Linked DNA regions of Homo sapiens: regions 2, 3, 4, 5, 6 and 7 are each linked to region 1. Evidence: fine-mapped expression QTL. A gene starts in region 1. Each other region holds a variant in brackets. All regions are shown on one strand. Distances are between the middles of the regions.

Region 1 (4,064 bases):
TTGAATTTTCTTTTTTTCTTTTTTTTGAAACAGAATCTCTTTGTCTCCCAGGCTGGAGTGCAGTGGCGCGATCTCGGCTCACTGCAAGCTCCGCCTACCGGGTTCACGCCATTCTGCCTCAGCCTCCCGAATAGCTGGGACTACAGGCGCCTGCCACCACGCCCGTCTATTTTTTTTTATTTTTAGTAGAGACGGGGTTTCACCGTGTTAGCCAGGATGGTCTTGATCTCCTGACCTCGTGATCTGCCCGCCTCGGCCTCCCAAAGTGCTAGGATTACAGGCGTGAGCCACCGCGCCCGGCCTTGAATTTTCCTTTCATCTCTGAAGGCATTCATAATTACTTCCAGTTTCATGTTATCTATAAATTTGATAAACATCAGGATCCTTAACCATGTCATTTATAAAAATTTTACTCAGGAAAGGCCGGGCGCGGTGGCTCACGCCTGTAATCCCAGCACTTTGGGAGGCCAAGAACGGCGGATCACGAGGTCAGGAGATCGAGACCATCCTGGCTAACACGGTGAAACCTCATCTCTACTAAAAACATAAAAAGTTAGTCGGGCCTGGCGGCAGACACCTGTAGTCCCAGCTACTCGGGAGGCTGAGGCAGGAGAATGGCGTGAACCCGGGAGACGGAGCTTTCAGTGGGCCGAGATCACCCCACTGCACCCCAGCCTGGGCGACAGACAGAGTGAGACTCCCTCTCAAAAAAAAAAAAAATATTTTACTCAGGGAAGAATTCTATGCCATGGTGGCCTTTGTTTGATAACATACATTATTAACGTGCACTCCTGTAGGTGCACTAAAAACTTAGCTCATGCACTTTGTATATCCTTATAATGGTCCAAAGAAAACACACTGATTCTTTTCAATGGTGGCCAATGCCTTGCCAAAATGAAATAATTTCCATAAACCTTAAGAAGGAAATAATGTCAGGATTTTGAATCAACATCTGTTTCTACTGACCATTTATTTTTAAATAGGTTCTAAAATCCTGACAAGGGCAGTAGCTCATGCCTGTAGTCCCAGCACTTTGGGAGGCTGAGACGAAAGGATCGCTTGATCCCAGCCAGGAGACAAGCCTGGGCAAGAGCGAGACCCCATCTCTACAAAAAACAGAAAAATTAGCCGGGTGTGGTAGTGTGTGCCCGTTGTCCCAACTACTAAGGAAGCTAAGGCAAGGAGGTCACCTGTGCCTGGGAGGTCAAGGCTGCAGTGAGCCGCGCTACTGCACTCCAGCCTGGGCAACAGAGTGAGACCCTGCCTCGAAAAAGCCAAAACAAAACCGGTAATACTGGCATCATACCAGCCTGCACTTTGGGACAGGTGATGGCTGGGGTGGGAAGAAACGTGAAGAGGAAATGAGAACACAGAGAAAACGCTGCAACAAGAAGTCCTCTGGCTTCACTGCAGACAACTGGTTTCTCCTTCGCCCGTTATCTTAAACAAGGCTGGTGCAGCAAATCTGACGCAGCACTACAGCTTTTAAGATTTACCTTGATTCGTGATTTTACCAAGCAAAGGAATGCAGTAAATTGACCTGCTTCAAACGTAGGTAGAAGTGAGAAATGGAAACAGAAAACCATGAAACAGCCCTAGTGTTGCAGTGAAGCTGTGACAGGTTGACTCCTTCCACTCGGGAAGCCCAAGATGGCCGGGCCAGGAACCCGGGAGGCTGCTGAAGTCTCAATTCCCCTCGCCCTAGGCCTGCCCAAGGGAAGTCAGGAGCCGCGCCACGCCCCCTTACATCACCGATAGACGTAATCCGGGTCGGCCGCAAACGTGCCGCAGGCCTAGGCCCCGCCCAGTGCCCCGCCCCTCCCCCAACACACACACACACACACACACACACACACACCCCAACACACACACACACACCCCAACACACACACACACACACACACACACACACACACACACACACACACACACACACACAGCGGGATGGCCGAGCGCCGCACGCGTAGCACGCCGGGACTAGCTATCCAGCCTCCCAGCAGCCTCTGCGACGGGCGCGGTGCGTAAGTACCTCGCCGGTGGTGGCCGTTCTCCGTAAGATGGCGGACCGGCGGCGGCAGCGCGCTTCGCAAGACACCGAGGACGAGGAATCTGGTGCTTCGGGCTCCGACAGCGGCGGCTCCCCGTTGCGGGGAGGCGGGAGCTGCAGCGGTAGCGCCGGAGGCGGCGGCAGCGGCTCTCTGCCTTCACAGCGCGGAGGCCGAACCGGGGCCCTTCATCTGCGGCGGGTGGAGAGCGGGGGCGCCAAGAGTGCTGAGGAGTCGGAGTGTGTGAGTGCGCGCAGGCGGGGCGGGGTGGGGACCGGGCGGCGAGCCGGCCGGGGGCGGGGTGTAGGTGATGCTAGGTAGTCTGTGAGTTGATAGTAGATACTGGGACTTTTTTTTGTTTTTGAGAGAAAAGGGGAGTTATCCCAATGCGAGTTTGCATCCGGAGTTCCAAGGGAAGAAGAAGGATTGGGGGTTTCTGGGAGGATGGTAGAGCCGCTGGAGATGGAAAGCGGATGTTTTATTCAGAAGTCGGGGCTGGAGGGAAGGAGACCAGACCTGCCTTGGCTACTACTTGATAAAGATTTACCTATCTCTGTCTCCCTCTCCAACCATTTTGTGCTGAATCTTCAGCTTTTCACCCACATTTCTTTATTGGGCTCCCCACCTCTGGAAATCACAGAACTAACCCATGTCTTCTGCTTTCTTTCAGGAGAGTGAAGATGGCATTGAAGGTGATGGTGAGTAGCATCTTTTACCCCATTAGGACAAGAGTTTTTTTTAACATAAACTCAGGTCATCTATTTCCAACATCGACATTCTCACACACTGTCACGGATTTAGGGCCACAGAGTGCCTTTTTGTAACATAGTGGTTAAGAGCATAGGCTTTAGCAGTATAGTCTTCAGCAAGTTACCCTCTGAGCCTGTTTCTCCTTTTGTAAGTGGGGACTATAATTTTATCCACGTTGTAGGTTGATGTCAGAATTAAATGAGACTCTTAGTCTGACCTGTAATAAGCAGCCAAAAAATGTTTCTGGGTTTCTTTTTTTCCACATATTTCTGTTTTATTTCAGCTGTTCTCTCGGATTATGAAAGTGCAGAAGACTCGGAAGTGAGTATGACAGGTTTTTTCCTATGGTATAGATCAGAAATGCTTTTTAAAAACGTGTACACACCTTCGTTGCAAACGTACCATGACCTCCGTGTTTATCCTCTTGTGTATTCTTCATTTATGCTTCTGAAAAAGTGTTACAGAAGGTCTTGTTCACTTTAGACCTAGGGAAAACTTGGGGCACGCCGTCTCAAGCCACAGGTGTTATACTGTTAGTTGGCTTCTCTTCCTGTCTGAAGAATATGAGGTTCTAAATAAGAGAGTGAGGATATCTTGAAGTCCTCTGAAAGATGTTTGACAGTTTGTTTTATGCAGTGTAGGTTGAGAAGCCAGCCAATTGGTTATTTTTTTCCAAATCTATCTGAAGACTTTGAAAGGGTAGGATTCGGAATGTTTTGTGCCAAGAGCATCCATCATTTTATAGGTGGGGATTTTTCTGTTTTTAGGAGAAAGTTTCCTGTCTTTTGGATAAACTACTAGAGATGCCATCAGAGTAAGTGTTTGTTTCCTGGGTTGTTGAGTGGACTCCTGAGTTCTGGTAATGGGATTATATATAGGGGGAATTGGATGGTGGATCAAAGATTTTGTCTATACATTTTTAGAACTGTTACTACATTTTAGAATCTGTTAAGCCCTTGAGGATGGAATAGTGAACACTATAACAAAATTCCTATCTTTAGAGATCTTACAACTCAATAAGGAAGTCAGACAAACATTCAAGCAATTGTACCACTTGCTGATAGGGGATAGCACTGGGATAGGGCTAAGTAGGGTGTTACAGCTGGGTACTGAATCCATCTTAGGCAGTCGGGAAAGATTAAACAGTTGGCTGGGTAAGATGTGTTCTAGGCAGAGAGAACAACAGTCAAGAAAGCCCACAGGGGCCGGGAGCAGTGGCTCACGCCTGTAATCCCAGCACTTTGGAAGGCTGAGGCAGACGGATCACTT
Region 2 (4,057 bases), 220 kb after region 1:
GGAAGGTGACCGGGATGCCACCTGGGCAGAGCTGCAACAGGCTTGACAGGCCTACGGGAGTGCAGGGCAGAGGCACTGAATCACGCTTGGGGCAGGGCTCAGAAGCCTTCCTGGAAGAGGTGGCCTCTCTCAGCTAAATCTCTTTTTAATTTAGTTTTATTTATTTTGAGACGGAGTCTCCCGCTGTAGCCGAGGCTCATTGCTAAATCTCTAGAGGAAAGAATTGGCTAGGTGGGTGCAGATTTGGAAGACTTAGTATGAAAAAAAGAATGTAAACTATCTCCTTAATACTTTTTAATATCAATGAGGCATTAAGATGAAAATACTTTGGGTGTGCTAGGTTAAATAAAATACGTGACTAAAATTAATTTCATTTGTTTCCTTTTACTTTTTTAATGTGGCTAATGAAAAACTTGAAACTACATACATGGCTCATATGCTATTTCCATCGGATGATGCTGATCTTGAACATCTTCTGACACACAGTAGGTACCCTACAAATATTTGTTGAATGAATACATCTGGAAAACAGCGGCACAGCCCCATCTGGGTTTGTGTGGAGGGGTCTGGGTTGTGGACACAGAACTGTCATCAGAGAGATGGTGCCCACCATAGCATGGATAGTGTTCGGGCATGGCAGTGGTGTAGGCCTGGGGACACCTTCAGTTTCTCATCCAACACATATTTACTGAGCACATACTACGTGCCATGGAAGGGGAGAGAGCAATGCCATCCTGCAGGAGAAGTGCTTTCCCTACGGAAGCGAGGGGCATCCAGCTCTGTCTTGGGGTGGGGGCTACCAGGGGAGCCCTCTCCTTGAAGGTGTCTGTTTTCTTCCCAAGTGACAACAATAGGTGGGTGGGCATTAGCTAGGGGAGGAGAAGGCTGCAGGAAGCAGCGGCTACTCTGGGCAAAGGAACAGCACGTTCAAACGCTTGGCAGCAAGCAGGTCTGGTGCTTGTTAGAAGAGAAAATTCCCTATGGTTCTGAGCACACCTGGAAGCCGGTGCTGTGGAGTCGAAGGCCTGACAGGGGCAGGGCTTCAGAAGGAAGCTTTGTGAAGGCGCTTGACTCACCCTGAGGGCAGGGGTGCTGCCCTCAGTCCCGGGTTTAAGTGGGGGGCGCTATTCAGAAACACCTCCCACTGCTGTGTGGGGCACAGGAGAGCTGAGAAAGACGCCAGGAACTCAGAAGGACAGGGTGGGGTGATGGCGGGGAACGCACAGCCTGGTAGGCAGGATGCGGTGAGGCCCGCAAGGTGCAGTCCGATGACGGCCCCTGGATTTCTCGCTTAGGTCCTGGGTGATCTTATGGAGAGCAGCCCACTGGCTGGTGAAGGGGGAGGGCAGACGGGAGGGGAGACACAGGAGGGGGATGCGCTGCATAGGCAGCAGCTCTTCGAATGCCCGCAAGTAGGAAGAAGGGGGTGGTTGGAAGGGAAGGCAGGGCCGGGAGCGCGTGTGTTTTGGGAGCTTTCTCCTGAGGACAGAAGGGACTTTCCCGTTTATAGCCTGGGGGAGCAGTAGCGGCGGGGAGGATGAAGATGGAGGAGGGAGGCATAACACACGTCTGGGTTGCCCTCTGGCCCGCCGCCCACCCCCACCCCACCTCCATGAAAGCGCCCAGCCCCCGCCT[C/T]GCCACAAGGGGTACTGTGAGGATGTTGCTCATAGGCTCCCGAGGATTGAGGCCTGCCCGGGGAAAGGGAGCCTCTCCTCCTCTTCCCTCCCTGGGCGGGGTCTCTTGGGAGGGGGGGACAGACCTCCTGTGATGCCCTGGCAGGTGGGCTGGGTTAGGGTGGTAGGGAGGGAGCCATTGTGGCTGCAGCTGGCATCGGATCCTGGCCACCCCCGCAGTGCATATCAGAGATCACACACACACGCGTGCACACACAGAGGTCACGCCGGATGTACACATGCACACATAGCGCACAAGGATGTTTCTGTGTACAGGTGTGCACACGCAGCCCACACAGAATGGACATGTGCGTGTGTGCACAATGCACTCACACAAAGCTCACAGGGATGTGAGTACACAGCTCTCAAGGGGCATATGTTTCTGTGTGCATGTGCACACAGCTCACCCGGGAGGGTTACGTGTGTCTGTGTGCACAAGTGGGCCTCACGCAGGGTGTACACATGCGCGCACATGCACAGCGCTCACACAGGGTGTACAGGTGCGCGTGCACACAGCTCACAGTGCTTATGTGTCCGTGTATGCACACTCGCAGAGAGCCCACAGGGGGACCACTCTCTCTCTGAACACAGAGAGTGCCTGAGAATGCTGGCATCACAGTTGTTTTTGTCCCCAGTAAAACAACCACTCTCCACCTTCCGCTCTGTTCTCCCCCTCGGGTCCACTCTCTCTCAGGGTCCTGGTCTCCTTCCTTTCCACCTGGGTGGTGGCATCCAGGACCTGCCTGAGTTCATTCTCCGCCCCCAGCCCGGCCTGCCCCAGGTGCCGCCGGCAGCCACTGGGAGGCAGTACGAGGCAAGTGCGATGCCGCCCGCGGGCCGTCCCCACAACGCGTCTCCTGCCGGGGCAGGTCCCGCGACAGCTCTGGTGGAAGCAGCTTCCGGCTTCTGCGGTGCGGGCGGAGGTGGCGGGGTCCGGCCCTCGCCGTCCAGTCCGCGCGAGGCGGTGCCCGCCCCTAGATGGCCAGATCTCGGCGGCCGGTGGCCGGTGACGCCTTGCCGCGGCCGCTGCCGCACTCGCGGAGGCTGGCCGGCGCCGGGTGCGCATAGGCCGGCGGGGCGCACGGCTCGGGGCCGGGGCGCCGGGAGGGCAGGGCCGGTGGCGGAGGTGGCGGCGGCGGCGGCGGGAGCAGCTTCTGCGCCTCTTCGTGTGCACGGTTGCAGCGGTTGTCACGCTCCCCGGCGCGCGGGCGGCCCTTCCAGAGCAGGTGGCCCAGCTCGGCTACGCTGAGCAGCGCCGACAGCAGCCCCACCGCGAAATAGAAGAGCACGAAGACGGTCTTCTCGGTGGGCCGGCTCACGAAGCAGTCGACCGTGTGCGGGCAGGGCGGACCGGCGCACGCGAAGTGCGGGGCCACGCGGAAGCCGTAGAGCAGCGCCTGGCCGCCCAGGAAGGTCAGCTCGGCCAGCAGGCGCAGCGCCACGCTCAGCAGGTAGCAGCGGCGCGCGCGGCGGGCGCGCAGGGCGCACGGCGCGCACTGGGCCTCGGGCAGTCCGGGGGCGCACTGCGCCGCCGCCTCAGCGCCGCCCGCCTCCTTGCCTGCCCGGTGCATGGAGTAGACGACGAACAGCACCGGGGGCGCCGAGAGCAGCAGGATGTGGAAGAGCCAGAAGCGGTAGTGGGAGACCGGGAAGGCGCGGTCGTAGCAGGTCTGGCGACAGCCCGGCTGCAGCGTGTTGCACACGAACTCCTCTTGCTCGTCCTCGAACACGGCGCCGCCCACCGTGGCCAGCACCAGGATGCGGAAGATCAGCATGACCACCAGCCAGAGGCGGCCCACGAGCGGCGACTGCAGCTGCACGGCGTCCAGCAGCGAGCCCAGGAACGCCCACTCCCCCATGGCGCTGGGGACGCGGGGCGGGGAGTCAGGGGATGGGGCAAGTCAGGGACCCCTGCCCCTTCCAAGCCTATCGGGGTGGGGTCCGTTGGACCTTCTCTGACTTCAGGGTGAGTCGTGAGGTAGGAGAGGCCCGGGTTTAGCGATGAGACCAGTATGAAACGGAGGGCCACGGGAGGGCCCGAGGGGAGCAGGCGACGCTCAGCTATGGGTTACCTTCTCTTTGGGACCGATGGGTGCTGGGGAGGATCCCCCATTTGCATTTTAGCCGCACCCCCTGAGCCGTCTCCGTTCGACCCTGGGATCCTCCAGATCCCAGATTCTTAGGAAGGACCTTGGAGATCAGCTGGACCAGCCCCTGACTTGCCTGGTTTCGGAAGCGGAAACCCAGCGGTGCCCTTAGCTGTCAAGGATGCTGTGGGAAGAGTGGAGCCTCGAACCCGAGACGCTAGACCCAATTTGGTGCCCATGGGAGGAGTGGGAGTGGCAGAGGCAGCGAGACCACTCCTTTCTTGGCCCACCATTTCT
Region 3 (4,064 bases), 30 kb after region 1:
TTTCTTTCCTGTGTTGTGGTACATCATAGGTGGCAATACCTGGTTTTTACTCTATTGCATAAAGAAGCTGTATTCTACTCCTTATCACCCCTACCTCTGTCCTGCTTAACTTCCACCACGTTGACATAATCAAGTATCTGTAGTGTCGCTACTGAACTCAGCCTTTTCCATTTGTCAGCTGATGGTAGGAATTAGAGAAAGCTGGGCAGTACTTTGAAGAAATAAAAACCAGAGCATAATAATGAAGAATTAAGGCAAAAATGAATAGTCACTTTATTTTGAAGGGTGGGCAGATTAGATATTTTTAAAATTATAAATTCCCCAATTCTCTTATGGCTGAATAATATTTCCTGTTCATCATAGGTTGGATGAATTCATTCCTAACTTTTTCTTCTCCTGGCTTGTGGGGTCCCAGGCCCCATCACAGGTATATGGAGGAGTGACCTACTATAACCCCGCCCAGCAGCAGGTGCAGCCAAAGCCCTCCCCACCCCGGAGGACTCCCCAGCCAGTCACCATCAAGCCCCCTCCACCTGAGGTATGAGAGTTCCTTCCTATACTTAATGCACATGCTCCGTCAGTGGGCTTTCCTTCTCCCCAGAGGATTTCCCTCATTTTCTGGGTGTGTTTCTCTGGAAAACAGTCTTTTTGTTATGACCTGATAACAAATTCCAACTTTGTTATTTCAGGTTGTAAGCAGGGGTTCCAGTTAATACAAGTTTCTGAATATTTTAAATCTTAACATCATATAAAAGTAAGTGCACAACTTACTGTGAATATTGTTAAAACTAATGCTCACACTTGCTTAATAAACAAAAATCACTTAATTAATGCTTTTTTTTTTTTTTTTTTTTTTTTTTTTTTTGAGACGGCGTCTCAGTCTGTTATCCAGGCTGGAGTGCAGTGGTGCAATCTCGGCTCACTGCAACCTCCATCTCCTGAGTTCAAGCGATTCTCTTGCCTCAGCCTCCTAAGTAGCTAGGATTACAGGCACGCACCACCACACCTGGCTAATTTTTGTATTTTTAGTGGGAATGGGGTTTCACCATATTGGCCAGGCTGGTCTTGAACTCCTGACCTCAGGTGATCCACCTGCCTTGGCCTCCCAAAGTGTTGGGATTACAGGTGTGAGCCACCCCACCCAGCCTCTGATTAATGCTTTAAGTTATAATAATCATGGGATATCTCAGGAGGCTTAAAGGAGTCCTGAAATTTGCCAGTTTGTTTGTTTGGCAAGTGTATTGGGCAGGGTTGAAGTAGAAACGATTGTTAACATGACAGTTTTCAATTGGGAAGCTACAAGGAAAAAATACAGGAAGGCAGTCAAGGAAAAGGGAAATCTAAATTTGAGATGTTATAGCAGAAAAAACCAGTTCTAAAGATCATAGAGGAGAAGGACTGGGGGTTTTGTTGCTTTTGTTTAAGGACATTACTTAAAACACATTATTTAGAAGTGTGGCTTTTTGAAAACAGCTTGTGAATGCCCAGAAGGCCCACTAACACTTTGGTGGTTCTTCCCTTTTTCCAACCCCTGTCAGAGCAGCAGAGGTGAGAACTCAGAAGAGAAATACAGCTGGCTATCTACTACCAGAAGGGCTTCAAAGATATAGGGTGTGGCTCCTACCAGCAAACAGCTGAAAGAGGAGGACCCCTGCCTTCCTCTGAGGACAGGCTCTAGAGAGAGGGAGAAACAAGTGGACCT[C/T]GTCCCATCTTCACTCTTCACTTGAGTTGGCTGTGTTCGGGGGAGCAGAGAGAGCCAGACAGCCCCAAGCTTCTGAGTCTAGATACAGAAGCCCATGTCTTCTGCTGTTCTTCACTTCTGGGAAATTGAAGTGTCTTCTGTTCCCAAGGAAGCTCCTTCCTGTTTGTTTTGTTTTCTAAGATGTTCATTTTTAAAGCCTGGCTTCTTATCCTTAATATTATTTTAATTTTTTCTCTTTGTTTCTGTTTCTTGCTCTCTCTCCCTGCCTTTAAATGAAACAAGTCTAGTCTTCTGGTTTTCTAGCCCCTCTGGATTCCCTTTTGACTCTTCCGTGCATCCCAGATAATGGAGAATGTATCAGCCAGCCTTCCCCACCAAGTCTAAAAAGACCTGGCCTTTCACTTTTAGTTGGCATTTGTTATCCTCTTGTATACTTGTATTCCCTTAACTCTAACCCTGTGGAAGCATGGCTGTCTGCACAGAGGGTCCCATTGTGCAGAAAAGCTCAGAGTAGGTGGGTAGGAGCCCTTCTCTTTGACTTAGGTTTTTAGGAGTCTGAGCATCCATCAATACCTGTACTATGATGGGCTTCTGTTCTCTGCTGAGGGCCAATACCCTACTGTGGGGAGAGATGGCACACCAGATGCTTTTGTGAGAAAGGGATGGTGGAGTGAGAGCCTTTGCCTTTAGGGGTGTGTATTCACATAGTCCTCAGGGCTCAGTCTTTTGAGGTAAGTGGAATTAGAGGGCCTTGCTTCTCTTCTTTCCATTCTTCTTGCTACACCCCTTTTCCAGTTGCTGTGGACCAATGCATCTCTTTAAAGGCAAATATTATCCAGCAAGCAGTCTACCCTGTCCTTTGCAATTGCTCTTCTCCACGTCTTTCCTGCTACAAGTGTTTTAGATGTTACTACCTTATTTTCCCCGAATTCTATTTTTGTCCTTGCAGACAGAATATAAAAACTCCTGGGCTTAAGGCCTAAGGAAGCCAGTCACCTTCTGGGCAAGGGCTCCTATCTTTCCTCCCTATCCATGGCACTAAACCACTTCTCTGCTGCCTCTGTGGAAGAGATTCCTATTACTGCAGTACATACGTCTGCCAGGGGTAACCTGGCCACTGTCCCTGTCCTTCTACAGAACCTGAGGGCAAAGATGGTGGCTGTGTCTCTCCCCGGTAATGTCACTGTTTTTATTCCTTCCATCTAGCAGCTGGCCTAATCACTCTGAGTCACAGGTGTGGGATGGAGAGTGGGGAGAGGCACTTAATCTGTAACCCCCAAGGAGGAAATAACTAAGAGATTCTTCTAGGGGTAGCTGGTGGTTGTGCCTTTTGTAGGCTGTTCCCTTTGCCTTAAACCTGAAGATGTCTCCTCAAGCCTGTGGGCAGCATGCCCAGATTCCCAGACCTTAAGACACTGTGAGAGTTGTCTCTGTTGGTCCACTGTGTTTAGTTGCAAGGATTTTTCCATGTGTGGTGGTGTTTTTTGTTACTGTTTTAAAGGGTGCCCATTTGTGATCAGCATTGTGACTTGGAGATAATAAAATTTAGACTATAAACTTGGCTCCCTTGCCAGTGTTTTGCATGAGTCTTGATTTGGGAGGGAGGGAAGAGGACTCCCTAATTCCCCCACAGGGTCACGGTCACAACTCAGGTCAGCCCAAGTTGTGAAACAGAAGCCCAGAGAGATGAGGAGCCCCTATGAGGCCATAAATGTGTCTGCACTCCCCATCAGTTATCTTTTTTAACCACATAGATCACCAGGATGTCATGCCATCCCTTAGATTGGAAGTGTCAGGGACAGAAAAGTAGTGAGATGCTGGTTATTCACATGAGCATCTAGTATCCTTTATGGCTTCCTTTGTGTTTGGCAAGTAAGTTTCCCAAGGTAATATGCCATCAGATGTCAATATAACTATACCAAGTCCTGGGTTGGGGGGAAGTACAGGTAGCTAGCTTTCTTGAAAAGTGAAGATGCTGCTGGCCACCGTGGCTCACGCCTGTAATCCCAGCACTTAGGGAGGCCGAGGTGGGCAGATCTCGATCAGGGAGATCGAGACCATCCTGGCTAAACAGGGTGAAACACTGCCTCTACTAAAAATACAAAAATAGCTGGGAGTGGTGGCGGGTGCCTGTAGTCCCAGCTACTTGGGAGGCTGAGGCAGGAGAATGATGGGAACCCGGGAGGTGGAGCTTGCAGTGAGCCGAGATTGCGCCACTGCATTCCAGCCTGGGCGACAGAGTGAGACTCCGTCTCAAAAAAAAAAAAAAAAAAAAGGAAAAGTAAAGATGCTGACACTAAAGTATTCAGGACCACACAGTCTTAGAGAGACTATCAGCTCAGGTAAGGGGAAGGGAATTTGT
Region 4 (4,064 bases), 270 kb after region 1:
GAGAATTGCTTTAACCTGGGAGGCGCGGGTTGCAGTGAACTGAGATCAAGCCACGGCACTCCAGCCTGGGAAACAGTGAGAAGCTGTCTCCAAAAAAAAAAATTAAAAATAAATAAATAAAATTAGACACAAATAAAACAAATTGAGACACTTGTCCTCATCAAGTTTAAGACACAACATAGAAGACAGACATAGCTGGGTGCAGTGGCTTACGCCTGTAATCACAGCACTTTAGGAGGCCGAGGATGGTGGATCAAGTGAGGCCAGGAGTTCAAGACCAGCCTGGCCAACATGGTAAAACCCCATCTCTATTAAAAATACAAAAATTAGCTGGATGTGATGGTGCATGTCTGTAATCCCCGCTACTCAGGAGGCTGGAGAATCCCAGCTACTCAGGAGGCAAGGAGAATCGCTTGAACCTGGGAGGCAGAGATTGCAATGAGCCAGGATTACGTCACTGCACTGTAGCCTGGGCAACACAGCAAGACTCTGTCTCAAAAAAAAAAAAAAAAAAGACTGGGCACAGTGGCTCATGGCTGTAATCCCAACACTTTGGAAGGCCGAGATGGGTGGATCATTTGAGGTCAGGAGTTTGAGACCAGCCTGACCAACATGGTGAAACCCTGTCTCTACTGAAAATACAACAACAAAAAAATTAGCCAGGCATGGTGATGCATGCCTGTAATCTCAGCTACTCGGGAGGCTGAGGCAAGAGAATCACTGAAACCTAGGAGGCGGAGGTTGCAGTGAGCCGAGATCGTGCCACTGCATTCCAGCCTGGGCGACAGAGCGAGACTCTGCCTAAAAAAAAAGACAGAAATAAAATAAGTTACAGTGTTATAAGTGTTATGGATAAGCAAAAAGTTTGCTAATAAGGTATGTTCAATATTATATTGGAACCAACTTAGGTGGGGGGAAGGGTAGAAAGTAAAGGCTTTCCTGAGGAAAGGACAAGACCTAAAGTAGCCAGGTGAAAAGGATGTATTTCATGCAGAGGGATTAGCATGTGAATAAACTCTGAGGAGGGGAAGAGCACTGTGCTTTTCAGTAATTTAAAAGCAACAGGACAATATACGAAAAACTGGCACTGAGATGAGTTGGAGAAGTAGGTGTAATTAGATTACAGCAGATCTTTCTTGTTGGCCAAATTATGGAATTTGGACTTTCCCTGAGTGGAAGTCATTGAAAGATTTCAAATGAGAGTGAAGATAAAAATGGGTGTTTTAACACAAAAGTCACTCAAAAGCATTCCAAGGAAAGGACTTAACCAGTATGAAGGTTAAGAACCTATTGTAGTAAACCAAAAAAGAGATAATGGTGAGAAGCTACTGCAGCATCCAAGAGATGATTCTTATTGACCGGATTAGAGAGGAGGGGAAATAAAGGAAGGCTCCCAGCTTTCTTGTTTATACAACCTAGAGGTTGGTTGGGGCTTTTTACTAAGATAGGAAGTTGTTTTTTTGTTGGAGAGTGGGGGGCTGCTTGTATGGGCAAATCAGTGAGTATGGAGGTAACAAATTCAATTTTGGATGTGTTGACTGAAAGCAAGTCTTAGGCATTTAAGTGAGGGTGTTTGTTAAACAGCTAGATTAATTCAAAAGTGATCTAAGCTTAATGGTAAAATGTAATTGGGAAATACTGAAATATAGACGGTCATTAAGTCTTTGGTAAATCAGTTAAAGTAAAGCCCTTTTTTACTTCCTTTTCAGATTGGGAAGACTTGGAGAAGCTCACTATGAGAAGAATCATTGTTTCTGCAGAGCTAAGAAGTGCAATGGAAAATAAAGTCAGGTGTTTCTATTTTTATTTTCCTCTAAGTACTCACAGCTTTGATAAATTTTTCACTCAATTGGCATGT[T/C]GATCCAAAGCTCTTGGGTTGTAAAGTCATGTTTTCTTTTGTCTGAGAGTCAAAGGTTGGGTTTTCAATTAAGGCATTTACAAAAATCCACATGTGATTTTTCACCTGCAATAGAAGTTGATATTAAGCCACTAAAAATGTACTCATGCTTTATTTATAGCCTTTCTCTTCTTCCTTGACTTTAGAAAAAGAAAACTGCCAAAAGCACATACCTGATGTGCTTTTACTGCAACACCACCCTTGTTCTTCTTCTTCACAACATCAACAAGTTTAGTCACAATCTGATCAGCTACATAATCAACATGTCTGCCACCCTAATAAGGAAAAATACCAAACTGTAAAACTCAGTATCCTCAAAATTATAATAATCAAACATTAAAAACTAATTTAACCTCCTTTATACTAAGCTAGCCCAATATTCAAGTCCACTTTATATATTAAAAACAATAAGAACACATATATGTAAAGATAAATCATGATTAATAATTTAAGAATAAAATTACCTTGGATGTAGCAATGCTGTTGACAAAGCTAATTTGCTGAAAGCCTTTTTCACTCATAGTTAAACACACTTCCCACCTGTGGTTTACTTGTTCATGTATTACTTTCAAGGAGTTACCAGTTTCATCCAACTTGTCCTTCAAATACATGTCCACATAACTACGAAATCCTTTTACCTGTACAGGAATTAAAGGTAACAGTATTAAGAAAGTTATTAAAAAATAGGTTCAATGATAGACTATGAGGACTTTCCAAAACCAATGCAATGATGTTCACTGATAGGCATAAGGGAATGGTCATTAAAGGACACAGGCCGAGGTGGGTGGATCACTTGAGCCCAGGAGTTCAAGACCACCCTGGGCAACATAGTGAGATCCCCACCTCTATTAAAAAGAAAAAAAAAAATTAGCTGGGCATGGTGGTGCTGCCTGCATTTCCAGCTACTCCAGAAGCTGAGGTGGGATGATCGCTTGAGCCTGGGAGGTCCAGGCTGTAGTGAGCCGTGATTGCATCACTGTACTCCAGCCTGGGTGACACAGCGAGGTTATCAAGAAAAGAAAGAAAAAGGAAAATAAAAAAAGGACATGAAATATTTATTTTAGGTGTTTCTTTGAGAAAGAAATTCCTTCGGTAAGTTTAAAATGAGCTGATTAAAAAATGTGGCATACCATTCTCTTTTCAAGAACATATGTGAGAAGTGGTAAGAAAATACATATGGTTGGGCCAGGTGCAGTGGCTCATGCCTGTAATCCCAGCACTTTGGGAGGCCAAGACGGGTGGATCATGAGGTCTGGTGTTCGAGACCAGCCTGGCCAACATAGTGAAACCTGTCTCTACTAAAAATACAAAAAATTAGCCAGGTGTGGTGGCAGGCACCTGTAATCCCAGCTACTTGGGAGGCTGAGGCAGGAGAATTGCGTGAACCTGGGAGGTGGAGGTTGCGGTGAGCCGAGATCGTGCCACTGCACTCCAGCCCGGGCAACAGTGTGAGACTCTGTCTCAAACAAACAAACAAACAAACAAACAAAAACATATGGGAGGGGAAAAAATTCAATTTTGCACTTGACAATGATTACAAAATCCCTTATTATCCTTAACATCCAGGAAAATACTCACTGGCAGTTTATTTCCATTAAGAAAGACTTTGACATCTTTGGTGGATCCAGCAATATCATATGCTCTTCTGACCATTAGTGCAACAATATCTTTGTCCAGGCTTTGCATTTTAAACTTAGACAAATCAGGCTGAAAGGTGATACATGTATAATCTTCTCCATTGAAGGGCTTGAGTTCCATCTCACCAGCTCTTCCCATATTATCCATCCATGTCTATGGAAGTAAAGAATAGGAAACATGAAAAATTCAAGTCATCTCACAAACTGGAAGTAAATAACATAAATTTATGAGTCCTAATAACCTAATATATATGCTTATAATTTTCCATACTTCAATAGCTTATAAATTATGTTAAATTAAACCAATCATTAATGCCATTATAAATGGCTATACTACTACCATTTATCATTAAGGTACAAGACACTTATTTACTTGCCTGTTTGAACATTTTCTTGTATTCTCTACTGGCTGTTTCCACAGTAAATTTGGTACTGAATATGTTACACAATTTGGCTCCATAGCCATTTCGACCACCTGGGCAAATAAATATGAAACACTATTTTATTGTTACTATCTCATTGACAGCTTT
Region 5 (4,064 bases), 26 kb before region 1:
GAGTGTTGCTGGGGAAGCGGGTAGTGGTAGTGAGCAAAAAGCAGCTCACCCACCCAGAGGAGGCCCTGTTCCCATCACCCAGCCCATAATTAGGGCATTCTTGGCTCTTGTCTGGAATGGGAGGATCTGAGTGCTCTGCCAACATCATGAAGAACTCAACGGGAAATGGAGTTGGAGTAGAGGTAACCAACTTTGCAGCTGGAAATTAAAATTTTATTCAACTCCACCCCCAAGTAATTTTATTTGATGACATCCTTCTCTTGCATTTGTCTCATCGTTTGATTGTGTAATCCTTAGCCAGGGAGCTATGTAGATATGAAATCATTTTAAACAGAGGCAGCTGCATTCCCCTATTGTACCTGAGCCCTCATCAGCTTTCCTCCTCTCAAGCTGCTGCCCCACATTCACCCTGAAGGGGGCACTTTTGTTCAGTCGTTAGCTGGTGCCAGCTGAAAGCGAGCTCCAGGAAGGAAACATAACAATTGGTCACATGTTGGGGTGAGGGTTCTCGCAGGGGCTGCTGGGACAGGGAAGGGAGGTCCACGTGGAGTGGGCGGAACGCGCTGAAAGTTTTGGCGGGGCTAGCAGAGGGAGAAAAATACCCAAATTTGAGTTGTGATTTTTAATAGGGGGAAAAAAAAAAGGCAAGGAGGGTGTGTCCTACCCTCTGAGAGGCCCCCGCAGAGGGGAGCAGGAGAGCAGCACACTAGCATCCTGCTCGCGGAAGCCTGGAACGCAGGACATGGTTTCTGCCAGAAAGAGCTGAGCCAGGCCAGGCTGCGGAGCTGGAAGCCTCTGTGGCTCCACGCTGGCTTCCCATCCCCCATCCTCCCGGAGAAGGCAAAGGTGGCCTCTCCAACTGTGGTGTCCTTTCAGTGTCACAGGACTGGGGTAATACCAGTCACACAACTCCAGTCTCTATTTACCTTTCCGAGAGCTTCAGGAAACCACCCAGATGAATCCTCTTTCCCTGGGGAGTGGCCAAAACAAGTCTCCTCTTTTTTCTACCTACTTCTGCCCCACTGTTAGCTGGAAAACGTAGCTTTATACAGTCATAAAGCTGCAAGGGACCTTAAAGATGATTTATTTCCATTTTATTTTTTGGTCTGGGAAAACCAAGCCCAGTCAAGTGAAAAGTCTTGCTGCATCCTCTTTCCACGACATAGGCATTCCCTTCAAAGAATGTAGGTCATAGAAATGGAATTCTGCCATTCTATAAGCCTTAGAGGGGTGGTGAAAGTATTGGCTTTTAACTCTTTCCATACTCTTAGCCAGAAGGCAAAAAGAATGGTCATTATCTCATTAGGGACAGAATTGCTTAGGGAGGCCCGACACTGTGGCTCAATCCGGACACGGTGACTATAATCCCAGCATTTTGGGAGGCTGAGGTGGGCGGATCACCTGAGGTCAGGAGTTCGAGACCAGCCCGGCCAACATGGTGAAACCCCCGTCTCTACTAAAAATACAAAAATTAGCCGGGCATGGTGGCAGGCGCCTGGAATCCCAGCTACTCGGGAGGCTGAGGCAGAAAAGAATTGCTTGAACCCAGGAGGTGGAGGTTGCAGTGAGCCGAGATTGCACCACTGCACTGTCCAACCTGGGTGACAGAGCAAGGCTTCGTCTCAAAAAAAAGAAAAAAAAAAAAGACTTAAGGACTTGATTTATGGTCCTAAACACAGTTTTCCTAGGCTCCCTCACAGCTGGCAACTCCACTTTGCCCCTCTGGGCCTTTGAGAGCTCCCTTCTTTACATTTCTTAGTTCAGGGATCACCACAGCTTAAAACTTAATGGTTTGGAAACAAGAATTCCTTTCCCTTCTTAGAAGACCTTCTCTTCTCAGGTTTCAGTTTTCTGGTGGTTTAGCCAGGTCATCCTGTGTATTGAGATCAAGATCAGACCTCCAATCCAAAAATTCCAGCTTTGGCTTTGGTGGGGAAAAGCATGTTTACTTAGTCTGGAGCAGTGAAATCCTAGACTTTGGATTTCAGAGCTGTAAAGTTTCCAGAAAAAAAAAATGTTGAGACCAGGCACAGTGGCTCATGCTTGTAGTCCCAGCACTTTGAGAGGCCAAGG[C/T]GGATGGGTCACTTGAGCCCAGGAGTTTGAGACCAGCCTGGGCAACATGGTGAGGCCCCATGTCATGTAAAAATTAGCCAGGCATGGTGGTGCATACCTGTAGTACCGGTGACTCAGGAGGCTGAGGTAGGAGTATCACTTGAGCCTGGGAGTTCGAGGTATGATAATGTCTGTGAACAGCTACTGGACTCCAGCCTGGGCAACACAGCCAGACCCCGTTTAAAAAAAAAAGTCAACCAACCCCAGTTGTAGAGTCCCAAGCAGTGGTTCTCAAACTTGAAGTACATCAGAATCACCTGGAGGGCTTGTTAAAACACCACGTGCTGCATCTCACCCCACAGTTTCTTATTCATTAGGTCTAAGGTGGGAAGCCAAGAATTTGCATATCTAACAAGTTTCCAGGTGATACTGAAGGTGCTGGCCTGGAACCACAATTGGGCTAGAGAGGAAGAAAACATATAATTTATTCATGGAATTGCCAGCTGGTTAGTCTTAGAAATTTGACGGTAAAGCCCTCCTTCTCCCTCACCCCACTTTCTATTGATCAACAAATGCTGCCAATTAGTAATAATGTGATAACTACATTATCAAGCATTACTAGGTGCCACATGCTATGATAAACATTTTACATGGATTATCTCATTTAATCCTCACAATAACCCTGTGAAGTAAGGTATTAGTATAGTCATTTTACAGATAAGCAACCTGAGGTAGAGGTTAAATAACACACAGCCACTAAACGGGAGAACTGTGATTGCTATTTGCAGTTTCACACCAGAAACTTTGCTCTTAACAGCTGAGTCTCCTCCTGTCATTCCCTCTATATCCCCATACTACTAGTATCTTAACCACTCATCATCTCACACCTGCACTAACAGCCTTCAAGTTGGCCTCCGGCTTTTGGTGCAGAGACGCAAATATTGAAGTTAGCTTTCAGATACACAAATCTAATCATTCTATACTTTGGTGGAAATCCTCTGATGTTTCACCAAGGCTGATAAATTATACATTCCTTAACTGGGCCTTCAGACCTTCATAATCTGGTCTCAATCTGTTTTATCCCCTACATGCCCCACTATCCAGAACTACACTCCAATGAACTTCTCCCATTTTCTACAGTTACATCCTATTTTTTTTTTGAAACGGAGTTGCGCTCTTCTCACCCAGACTAGAGTGCAGTGGTGAGATCTCGGCTCACTGCAACCTCCGCCTTCTGGGTTTGAGTGATTCTCCTGTCTTGCCTTAGCCTCCCTATTAGGAGGGACTACAGGCACATGCCACCACGCCCAGCTAATTTTTTTTTTTGAGACAGAGTCTGTCTCCCAGGCTGGAGTGCAGTGGCGCGATCTCGGCTCACTGCAAGCTCTGCCTCCCAGGTTCATGCCATTCTGCCTCAGCCTCCCAAGTAGCTGGGACTACAGGCGTCTGCCAGTACGCCCAGCTATTTTTTTTAATTTTTAGTAGAGACGGGGTTTCACCGTCTTAGCCAGGATGGTCTTGATCTCCTGACCTCGTGATCTGCCCGCCTCGGCCTCCCAAAGTGCTGGGATTACAGGTGTGAGCCACTGTGCCCAGCTGCAATGTTCTTACCTCTGCCTGAAATGTCCTTTGATCTCAACCTTCAAGGCCCACCTCAGTTGTCACTTCCTCCTTAATTCCTTCCAGATGGTATGTTCAAATTTGTTCCTAGACAAATTTACTCTTCTCTAGGTTTCACTATTTTATTAGAGACAGAGTCTTGCTCTATCAACCAGGCTGGAGTTCAGCAGTGTGATCATAGCTCACTATAACCTCAGCCTCTCGGGCTCAAACAATCCTCCCGCCTTAGCCTCCCAAGTAGCTAGGACTACAGGCATGCACCACAATGCTCGGCTAATTTTTTTTTTTTTTTTTGAGACAGAGCCTCACTCTGCTACCCAGGCTGGAGTGCAGTGACTTGATCTTGGCTCACTGCAACCTCTGCCTCCCAGGTTCAAGCGATTCTCCTGTCT
Region 6 (4,064 bases), 200 kb after region 1:
GGGGGTGGGAGTGGGCGGTAGGGCTTCCACTACTACTCGGGGGTGAGAGTCCCGGGGTGTAGTGGAGGTCCTGTCTCTACCTTTCACTTAACCCGTGTTGCCCTTGCTGGACAATTGAACCCTCCCGGCCGCACCCTCCCCCCAGTAACCCTAAGTGCAATTTGTGTTAGATTAGGGCTGAGGAACTTTGAGAGTTCCTTCTTTCAAGCAACATTCCTTCATCTCTTGTTTCACTTCTTCCAGGAGAAATGAAGCCCAAGCCCCTTGCCCCCAGTTTATATCTTCTTGCCTGGAATCCAACAGCTTCACAGCAGGCTGGAGGGTGGGGTAAAGGTCCTGTCTGTGTGGGTTTGTCTGCTCCCGGGGGAAGGCCCCCCCGCCAGATCCCACTTGCCAAAGCCCGAGGGAGAGCCCCTTCCTGTGCGACAGCTGCTGCCCCCAGCCCTTGCTCTTGCGTCATTAGAGTGGGTGTCAGGGGAGCACTCAGTGTCTTTGGTATTGACAGTGGGGTGTGGCAGAAAGGGGCAACTTCATCAGACACCCGTCTGCCATCCTAACCTTCCATCTTGGCAAGGGGCACTGGGTCCTTATGGGGTTGTTGTCCTGGCCCCAGACACTTGGCTGTCATCTTTGAGGCTTTCATCCCCAGGAGTGGAGGGGAGAAGCTGCTCTGGTGAGAAGAATCCCTCTCCCCCTAATCCTAATCCGGTTTGTTCTCTGGGGAATGAGTTTGTTTTTGTGGGTCTGGGGCTGCTCTGGAAATGAGGACTGCATCCCTTCCCAGCTCCGCCACCGAGTCCTTTTGTTACCCTGACTTCACTTGGGGATAGGGCCAGGTCCTGGGCTGTGCCTTCCTAAGAGGGGCACTGATGAGAATCCTAGCATCCTGGCAGCCTGGTCACTTTCTCTCCTTGTTGCCCCCTGCCTGGGTGCAGGCTCCTCTGGGAGGAAGGGCTCTGTGCACACTCAGGAGCTCGGAGCACCAGGGTGTACACCTGGGCATTTTCCTGCGCAGCTGTGAGGCAGTGTACACTGGGTGGGCGGGAGCAGGCGCAAGGGGGTTATTGTTAGATGGCTCAGGTTTCTTCCCCTCCTGGGCTTTGGGCTCTTTGCTGGAGGGGAAGCTCTTCCGTGGAGGATCTCCCACCTTCCTGGACCTGCTGCCTCCCTCCTGCCTGCCAGGGAGGAGGGGTGGAGTGGGTCTCGGGGGGGCCCTGGCAGATTGGAGAAGGTTGAAGGGCAAAGGACTTACCCCACCCCTCTTGCTGGGAGAAGAGAGACCTGAGATGGACAGACAGCCCACCTCTGCCCTCCCAGAGCCACTTCTATCCCAGCTTTTCCTATTGTCCTGCCCCCGACCATTTCCTCTAGGGCCGAATCTGCTGTGTGGCTGTAGACACAAGAGGGAAGGTATCACCCTTGACTTTGGAAGAAGAGAGAGTGAGAGGATGACTCTAGGACCCTTTTTCTCATTCTCCCAGTGCTGGAGCAAGACCCCCCTCCCCTAGGGGGATAGTTGGAGCAGGGCTGCCAGAGTCACCCCTTCCACTGCCTTGGCCACCTTCTCCAGAGGGCTGGAGAGAAGCTGGGATCTGAGACCTTGGTCTCCAGCCCCTGTCTCTTCTTAGCCCATGGGGACAGCTCAGCTCTTCCTGGCCCAGAACTGGAGAGGGAGGAGGATCACAGAGAGTAGGACAGGCAGTGTATTGGTGAGCCCTTCCCCTAAACCACTGGACATGGGGAAGTGGAGACCTGTCCCCACATCCATTCTGGGGTGGGGTAGTAGACCTAGAGG[C/T]CTGGGTTTCCAGTTCCCGTAGTCTGAGCGTGGGTGTGCATATATAAGTGAGTGAGGTGTCAGTGGACTCGGGTCCTGAGGCTGTGAGGTTGGGAGTGATGGGGGTCTGGGGGCTTGCCTTGAGGCACAGGAAGGACCCGGAGTCTGAGGGTGGCAACTAGACTCAGTCTAGAATATGTGGGGCCAATGCCACCACCTTGGAAGGGTCCCCTTGGGTGTGTGGAAGTCCGCTGGTGACTGGAGCTGCCTCCAGCCCCCTCTTGGGGAATTCTCCACTCTCCCCTTTACTGCCACTGAAGGTGGGAAGAGCAGGTTGGCTCTGGGAGGAGGTGGCCTGGGTTCTGCAGGGCCCTAGGGACATTGCCTCCCTCCCCAGAGCCCTCATTTCGGTGCATTAGAGGACAAGGGGGGTGCACAGGATGTGGCTCCCCATCTGTCTCCCACCAATCTCCGCCACTCACACCTCCGCCCGCTCCCAGACGTCCAAGAATGTGAAGCACGTGGATGCCCGTAGTTGGGGGAGGGGGAGACGCTTATCAGGCGGCCGCTGGGCTAGGGGCCTTCTTCCGCTGCCGCGGTACACCCAGAGCTACCCCCGCCTCTCCCCGGGAGGAGGAAGGACGGTACAGAGGGCCCTACGCCCCCTCCCCAACCATCCCCAGGGGCTGCGAGGGGAGCTGCGGAGGAGCGGGCGCCAGCTGGATTGGGAGGGGAGCCGCTGGCCGGGGGCCCGGCTGATTTCCTGCTGATCTCCTCCAGGAAACCGGCCCCTTGTGCGAGCCTGCGAACGGCTCGGGGGCGTGGGGAATCCGGAGTGGAGCGCTCTGCGCCGCCCGCCCTGCCAGGATGGGGAGCGAGGGAGGGGCACCCTGGCAGCGTCGGCGGGAGGGGACGCCTGGCTTCCTGGGTCAGTTCCAGTCCTCTGTTGGGCGCTGGAACTTTGAGCTGAGAAGGTGTGGTCCTTCTCTAGCCCGAGTCCTTCTGCAGGAAGAGGAGAGATTGGTGGGCTGGGCCTCTGGGGAGGGAGGTTAGCAGGGATGGGCCAGGCCCGGGCAGTCCCTCCCCCGTTGGTGTCCCTCCCCACTCCACCTGTGTGTGCAGGGAGTTATGGCCGTGTCCTAACTCTTGCAGAGGCTGTGAGGATTCCGGAGTTCCCCACACCTCCGGCCTTGGTCCTTGTACCTCACCTCCTTGGACTGCTGGCTGGAGGCCTGGGGAGGTGGGGCATCGAGCTCTGGGTTCAAAGGGCAGAGCAGGGAAACCTCAGAGCTGGGTTACCTGGGTGACAGGTGGGGATGTGCTGGAGGTAGGGGGCAGGCTATGTTACAGCCTCCAAGGCAGTCAAGCTGCCGTTGGGTGGGCTAAAAGGAGGCCTTGCCCAGCCTAAACTGTAGTCCTTGCCTCTGGTCATCTCTCCCATTCTGCCAAAAAATAATTTTAAAAAGCACATTCTCTCAGTTCCGTAAACACCCTCTGTTGGACTTTGCTTTAGCTCCATGTTTTTATGGCTTTTTGCCCTCTAGTCTGTCCCAGGCCTTAGAGCTGTTTACCTCTCATCCTGGTATCCCCCATGACTCCCCATACCCTAGCTCCCCTCGTGACATCCCGCTCTGTACCCCCAAAGCTCCCTCAGTCCTTTCTCCCTCTCCAGTCTGGTTCATTTTAGAAGTGGGGCCTTGGGAGAGGCGGGGCCCAGGGCAAACGGTGGATTAGGAGGGGTGGGGAGGTCAGTGCCTTCTTCCTCTGCTTGTCGGAATGCTGACCAAGATTCTAGGCCATGGTCCCCCCAACCCTCCACATACCCCCTTGCCCTTGATCTCCCCTCCCCCCACCAGTCTGGATTGTCTATTGTTACTGCTTTTACGTCTTGGAAAAAGTTAGCACAACAAAGGGCTGCTTTGTGGCTCACCCCCTCTGCCTCCTGGCCTCACCCAGGCCCCCCAACCCCGCCCCCCCAGCAGCTGTTCTCAGGCCTCTCAGCCTGTCTGATTTGCTTGTCTGGCCTGGGGAGAATGAGGTGGGAGAAAACCAGGCCAGGGCAGTTGGTGTTGGAGTGAAGAGCAGACGGCGGTGGGGAGGTCAGGAGAGAATCTGCTGGGCTGGGGATGGTGTGGGCATCAACTGTCCCATTGCTGCAGGCTGGTCTTGGGGCAGGGAAGGGGATGGGGGGCCATAGCAGTGCTGGTCAGCCAGGCTGGCCTGGGAAGTGGTGCCCAGGCACTACTAAGAGCCAGGAAAGCCCTGCCAAGGTTGTTGGCCTAGTTCCCTG
Region 7 (4,064 bases), 190 kb after region 1:
ACAGATGCTTAGAGAGGTTAAGTGACTTGCGTAAGGTCACCCAGAGTGGCAGAGCTGAGATTTGACCCTTCCGACTTCTGGTTCTTTCTCCCATCTTCGTGGCTCAGAAAGCTCTCACCTTTTTCTCTAGGTGTGTGACTCTGGGGTGTAACGCGTGGGCAGCTAGGGATGCTGATGCTGGAGAAGGGATCCTGGCACCTTCTGAGGGTGAGAGCGGCCCCAGTGGGCAGGAGTGTGGGGCTGGTTGCAGGTGCTCTAGCCCCCTACCCCTTTTTCTGCTGTGCTTAGGCTAGGCTCCATATATTGGAGGTGTGGGCCTGTGGTTTTCTCTCTCTCAGGGGAGGGTGCCCGTGGGCAGTGGAGGTGGCTGGCATAGGGTGGAGGTTGGATGTGGGTAGTTTGTTTTCCCTCTCTTTGGTACTGGTTTCGATTCTCTGCCGAGGCCTTCTCCACCCCTGGGGTGTAGGGGGCTGGGGCCCAGGTGTCTCTCTGAGGGTCATAGCTTCTGATGGACCTTCTGAGGCAGAGTCTGTGCCCTTTTGGGCCCACCCTGGTCATCCCTACCCTTGCCCATCCCTGTTCTCTGGTCTTTCTGGCCCTTGGCCTATTTCTGTGACCTTTAGCCCTCCTGCGGCTCAAGGCCCTCCCCAGGGAGCTGAGTAAATTTGCACTGAAATTTGCAGGCAGAGCTGGGTTAGGCTTTTTGGAGGCTCTGATAGGGGTCTGGGGAGGCCTTCCAGCCTTGCCCTGTAGTGTGTGTGGGTGGTGGGCTGGGGGTGAGGTGGGGGTAGTGGGGATTGAAGTTTGATTCAATTTCAAACTCCACTGGGGCAGAGTTGAGGTGGCTGTGGTTTTCTCTTCTCTGGGAGCAAGGGTGGGTTCCAGAGGGTCCAGGCTGGACTGACTAAACTGGCCTCCCGACCCCCAAAGGCTGGGTCAGGATGCCTGAGATCTGGAGTGATGGCTTTCTGGGCCTCAGCGTGGGTTACAGAGGCCTCACTTTGGGTTAGCTGCCCCTTGGGCCTCACCTTGAGAGAGGCAGGCCTCTGTGGATGTGAATTCACCTGAGTGTTTGTGGACCTGGTGCATGGGCTGGGCCCACAGGGAGGACCTCAGAGCATCTTCTGGCAGAAGCAGCAGGTACAAGGGCCACCCTGGCTGTGTGAGGTTCGGAGAATGTACAGTTTGGGAGACTGTGGGGCTGTGGTTGTGTCTTTGGGGAGCTGTGTACTGGGGCCCATGCATGCAGTTTCTGAGCTGTGTTCATTGTGTGGTGGAGCCCAGGTGTGGAGAGATGGTATCTCCAGGTTCCTTCTCCTCACATGCATGCCTGCACACACACAGGCTGGGGCTGCAGGCGTGCTCTTGCCCACCCAGATGTTTTCTGTAGACCTGCATGCATGAGTTTGTATGTGTATTTGTGTGTGAGGGTCCAACTGTAGGAACTGATGAGGTTCTGCCAGCCTCTTCTTCCCTTGCATGGCTCCCCCAGCTCCAGTTCCCGTTGTGTGGGGCCCCACAGGAGTTGGGAGGGGGCCAGGGCGGCAACTGGTCCAGTGGGTGGGGCCCCTGTTCCTCTGACATCAGCCCTCTCAGCCTAGGAGGGAATTGGCAGGGGCCTGGGGTAGGAAGGGAGCTCTTTATTCAGGAGTGAGGAGAGAGGCCCTATGATTGTCATAATGAGTAACAGTAAAAATCGTGGTTATTAGCAAGGTCCAGATTTTACTCCTG[G/A]GGCAGCCTCCCCTCCCTAGCCCAGTACCTGTCCCCTCCCACCCTCTCTCCCTCAGTTCCACACAGGCTGGCTGGCTCAGCTGGGCCAGAATTCCTGGCCTCTTCCACAGTGGCCTTGGCAGGAACTCCCCCTTCCCAGGCCTGGTCTTCAACCAAATGCTGGCCATGTGCTTGTCCCCTGGACTCCAGATTTGAGGCTAGAGTCTGGAGTTCAGAGCTTGGAACCTAGTGTAGCCTGAGCTTGGGGTGGAGTGGCAAGGTATAGGGGGTGTTGGAAATGGACAGTCCTTATTTTGAGTCTCTGTGGCCCTGTTTCTTTTCTTTCTTTCCTCTTCTTTTTAAAACAGCTTTATTGAGATATAATTCACATACCATAAAATTTACCCATTAAAGTGTACAATTCAGTGGTTTTAGTATATTCAGAGTTGTGCAACTACCACCACAATCAATTTTAGAACACTTTCATCACCCCAGAAAGAGCCCCCATACCCAGCAACAGTCACTTCCCATATTCCTCAAATCCACGCCCCAGCTCCTGGTAACCACAAGTCTGCTTTCTGTCTCTATAAATGTGCCTATCCTGGATATTTCATATAAATGGAATCCTACAATACATGGTCTTTGTAACCGGTATAATGTTTTCAAGGAATATCCATATCATAGTATCAGTACTTCATTCTTTTTTTGGCAGAATAATGTTCCATTGTAGGGACATACAACATTTTATTTATTCGTCAGTTGATGGACTTTTGGGTTGATTCCACTTTTTGACTATTAGGAATAACGCTGCTGTGAATGTTCATGTATAAGTCTTTCTGTGGACTTACGTTGTCATATCTCTTGGGTAGATACCTAGGAGTAGAATTGCTGGGTCATATGCCATCGCTGTGTTTAACCTTTTGAGGAACTGCCAAACTGTTTTCCAAAACAGCTATTCTATTTTACATTCCCACCAGCAATATATGAGGATTCCAATTTCTCCACATCCTCGCCAGTACTTGTTATTATCTGTCTTTCTTATTAGAGCTAGCCTAGTGGGTATGAAGTGGTATCTCATTGTGCTTTTTTTTTTTTTGAGATGGAGTCTCACTCTGTTGCCCAGGCTGAAGTGCAGTGACACAATCTCGGCTCACTGCCTCCCAGGTTCAAGCAATTCTCGTGCATCAGCCTCCTGAGTAGCTGGGATTACAGGCATGTGCCACCACGCCTGGATAACTTTTGTATTTGTGTGTGTGTTTTTTTTTTTTTGGAGACGGAGTCTTGCTCTGTTACCCATGCTGGAGTGCAATGGTGTGATCTCAGCTCACTGCAACCTCCACCTCCCTGGTTCAAGCGATTCTCCTGCCTCAGCCTCCCAAGTAGCTGGGATTACAGGCACCTGCCACCATGCGCAGCTAATTTTTTAGTAGATTTTTGTATTTTTTAGTAGAGATGGGGTTTCGGCATGTTGGTCAGGCTGGTCTCAAACTCCTGACCTCAGGTGATCCACCTGCCTCAGCCTCCCAAAGTGCTGGGATTATAGGTGTGAGCCACCGCACCCAACTGACTTTCGTATTTTTAGTAGAGACAGGATTTTGCCATGTTGGCCAGGCTGGTCTTGAACTCCTGACTTAGGTGATCTACCTGCCTTAGCCTCCCAAAGTGGTGGGATTACAGGCGTGAGCCACCGCCCCCAGCCTCATTGTGCTTTTGATTGGCCATGTTTCTTTTTGTCTGTCTCTTTTCTTTTGTCTTTCATATATGTATTTTTCATATATAAATACATGCATATGTATTTATATATAACCTGTACCCAAAATGGATTTGAAACATCCTCTTGTCCTCGTATGGATATGTTCTTCGTGTTCTCTCTCTTTGCTCTTGTTGCTGCCTATCTGTCTCACTGTGTTATGGAATCTCTGGGTTCATCTCTGTCTCTGTCTCTACCCCATGGTATTATCTGTGCATATCCTCTGGTGCCAGCTGTTCAAACAGGGTGTGGATCTGTATTCACACTGGTGAAGGGGGCATCTGGCCTTTCATCTTCTGCCCACCTCCCACCCCAGTTCATGTGTTTTGCTTCTGCAGACAGAAGTATGTGGGTGAACCTTGAGATCAATCTCTCCTTCATTGCCTGGGGGTAGGAGGCTTCCTGGGCGGTCCTTGCCCTCCTACACATCGCCTACCCCTGGACCATCCATGCTGTTAAGCATTGGAGGTGATACCTAGGAGTCCTTGGTTCCCATTTTCCTATTAGTGTGTACGTAAATGGGCCTCCTCCCAGGGCCTGTGGGACAAACCCGTCTGGGGTGCTGGGGCTTGGATCTGGGGGGGAAGTGGTGTAAGAGGGGCCC

Which allele goes with the higher level. Positions count from the first base shown, and alleles are read on the strand shown. Sizes are in standard deviations (SD) of each study's normalised expression. Not every link is listed here.
In carriers of allele T in region 6, the expression in nucleus accumbens of the gene that starts at base 2,046 in region 1 tends to be lower than with C alone (large effect, 0.76 SD a copy in GTEx).

What was found.
Region 2: its variant is fine-mapped to the expression of CASC3 in whole blood (INTERVAL, PIP above 0.99).
Region 3: its variant is fine-mapped to the expression of CASC3 in whole blood (INTERVAL, PIP above 0.99).
Region 4: its variant is fine-mapped to the expression of CASC3 in whole blood (TOPMed, PIP above 0.99).
Region 5: its variant is fine-mapped to the expression of CASC3 in subcutaneous fat (GTEx, PIP 0.92).
Region 6: its variant is fine-mapped to the expression of CASC3 in nucleus accumbens (GTEx, PIP above 0.99).
Region 7: its variant is fine-mapped to the expression of CASC3 in whole blood (TOPMed, PIP above 0.99).

Annotation. Positions count from the first base shown.
Region 1 is chr17:40,138,492-40,142,555 of GRCh38, forward strand. It overlaps CASC3 (CASC3 exon junction complex subunit), which reads left to right and starts at 2,046. Exons shown (of 14, transcript NM_007359.5): 1 at 2,046-2,288; 2 at 2,716-2,743; 3 at 3,079-3,116. The coding sequence starts at 2,058. RefSeq lists enhancers at 1,657-2,597, 2,063-2,362.
Region 2 is chr17:40,360,284-40,364,340 of GRCh38, forward strand. It overlaps GJD3 (gap junction protein delta 3), which reads right to left. Exons shown (of 1, transcript NM_152219.4): 1 at 369-4,057. The coding sequence starts at 3,532. The coding sequence ends at 2,648. GJD3-AS1 (GJD3 antisense RNA 1) reads left to right here and starts at 2,562. Exons shown (of 1, transcript NR_186704.1): 1 at 2,562-4,057. RefSeq lists an enhancer at 2,374-2,668 and silencers at 2,496-2,565, 2,686-2,765, 2,796-2,905. The variant C/T (reference allele first, on the strand shown) is at 1,636.
Region 3 is chr17:40,168,909-40,172,972 of GRCh38, forward strand. CASC3 (CASC3 exon junction complex subunit) reads left to right here. Exons shown (of 14, transcript NM_007359.5): 12 at 416-538; 13 at 690-754; 14 at 1,539-3,263. The coding sequence ends at 713. Among named protein-coding and RNA genes, the nearest start is that of RAPGEFL1, 6.5 kb to the right of the region's middle. The variant C/T (reference allele first, on the strand shown) is at 1,703.
Region 4 is chr17:40,409,284-40,413,347 of GRCh38, forward strand. It overlaps TOP2A (DNA topoisomerase II alpha), which reads right to left. Exons shown (of 35, transcript NM_001067.4): 6 at 3,912-4,009; 7 at 3,476-3,688; 8 at 2,362-2,535; 9 at 2,071-2,172; 10 at 1,826-1,963. Among named protein-coding and RNA genes, the nearest start is that of TOP2A, 6.6 kb to the right of the region's middle. The variant T/C (reference allele first, on the strand shown) is at 1,859.
Region 5 is chr17:40,112,873-40,116,936 of GRCh38, forward strand. No RefSeq gene overlaps it. Among named protein-coding and RNA genes, the nearest start is that of MSL1, 7.1 kb to the right of the region's middle. RefSeq lists enhancers at 660-879, 900-959, 990-1,777, 1,778-2,563. The variant C/T (reference allele first, on the strand shown) is at 2,074.
Region 6 is chr17:40,342,899-40,346,962 of GRCh38, forward strand. The region is part of intron 2 of RARA (retinoic acid receptor alpha); the gene reads left to right. It overlaps RARA-AS1 (RARA antisense RNA 1), which reads right to left and starts at 238. Exons shown (of 3, transcript NR_110861.1): 1 at 1-238. RefSeq lists enhancers at 1-230, 1,331-1,881, 1,882-2,431, 2,432-2,982 and a silencer at 2,587-2,636. The variant C/T (reference allele first, on the strand shown) is at 1,796.
Region 7 is chr17:40,326,345-40,330,408 of GRCh38, forward strand. The region is part of intron 1 of RARA (retinoic acid receptor alpha); the gene reads left to right. Among named protein-coding and RNA genes, the nearest start is that of RARA-AS1, 15 kb to the right of the region's middle. The variant G/A (reference allele first, on the strand shown) is at 1,732.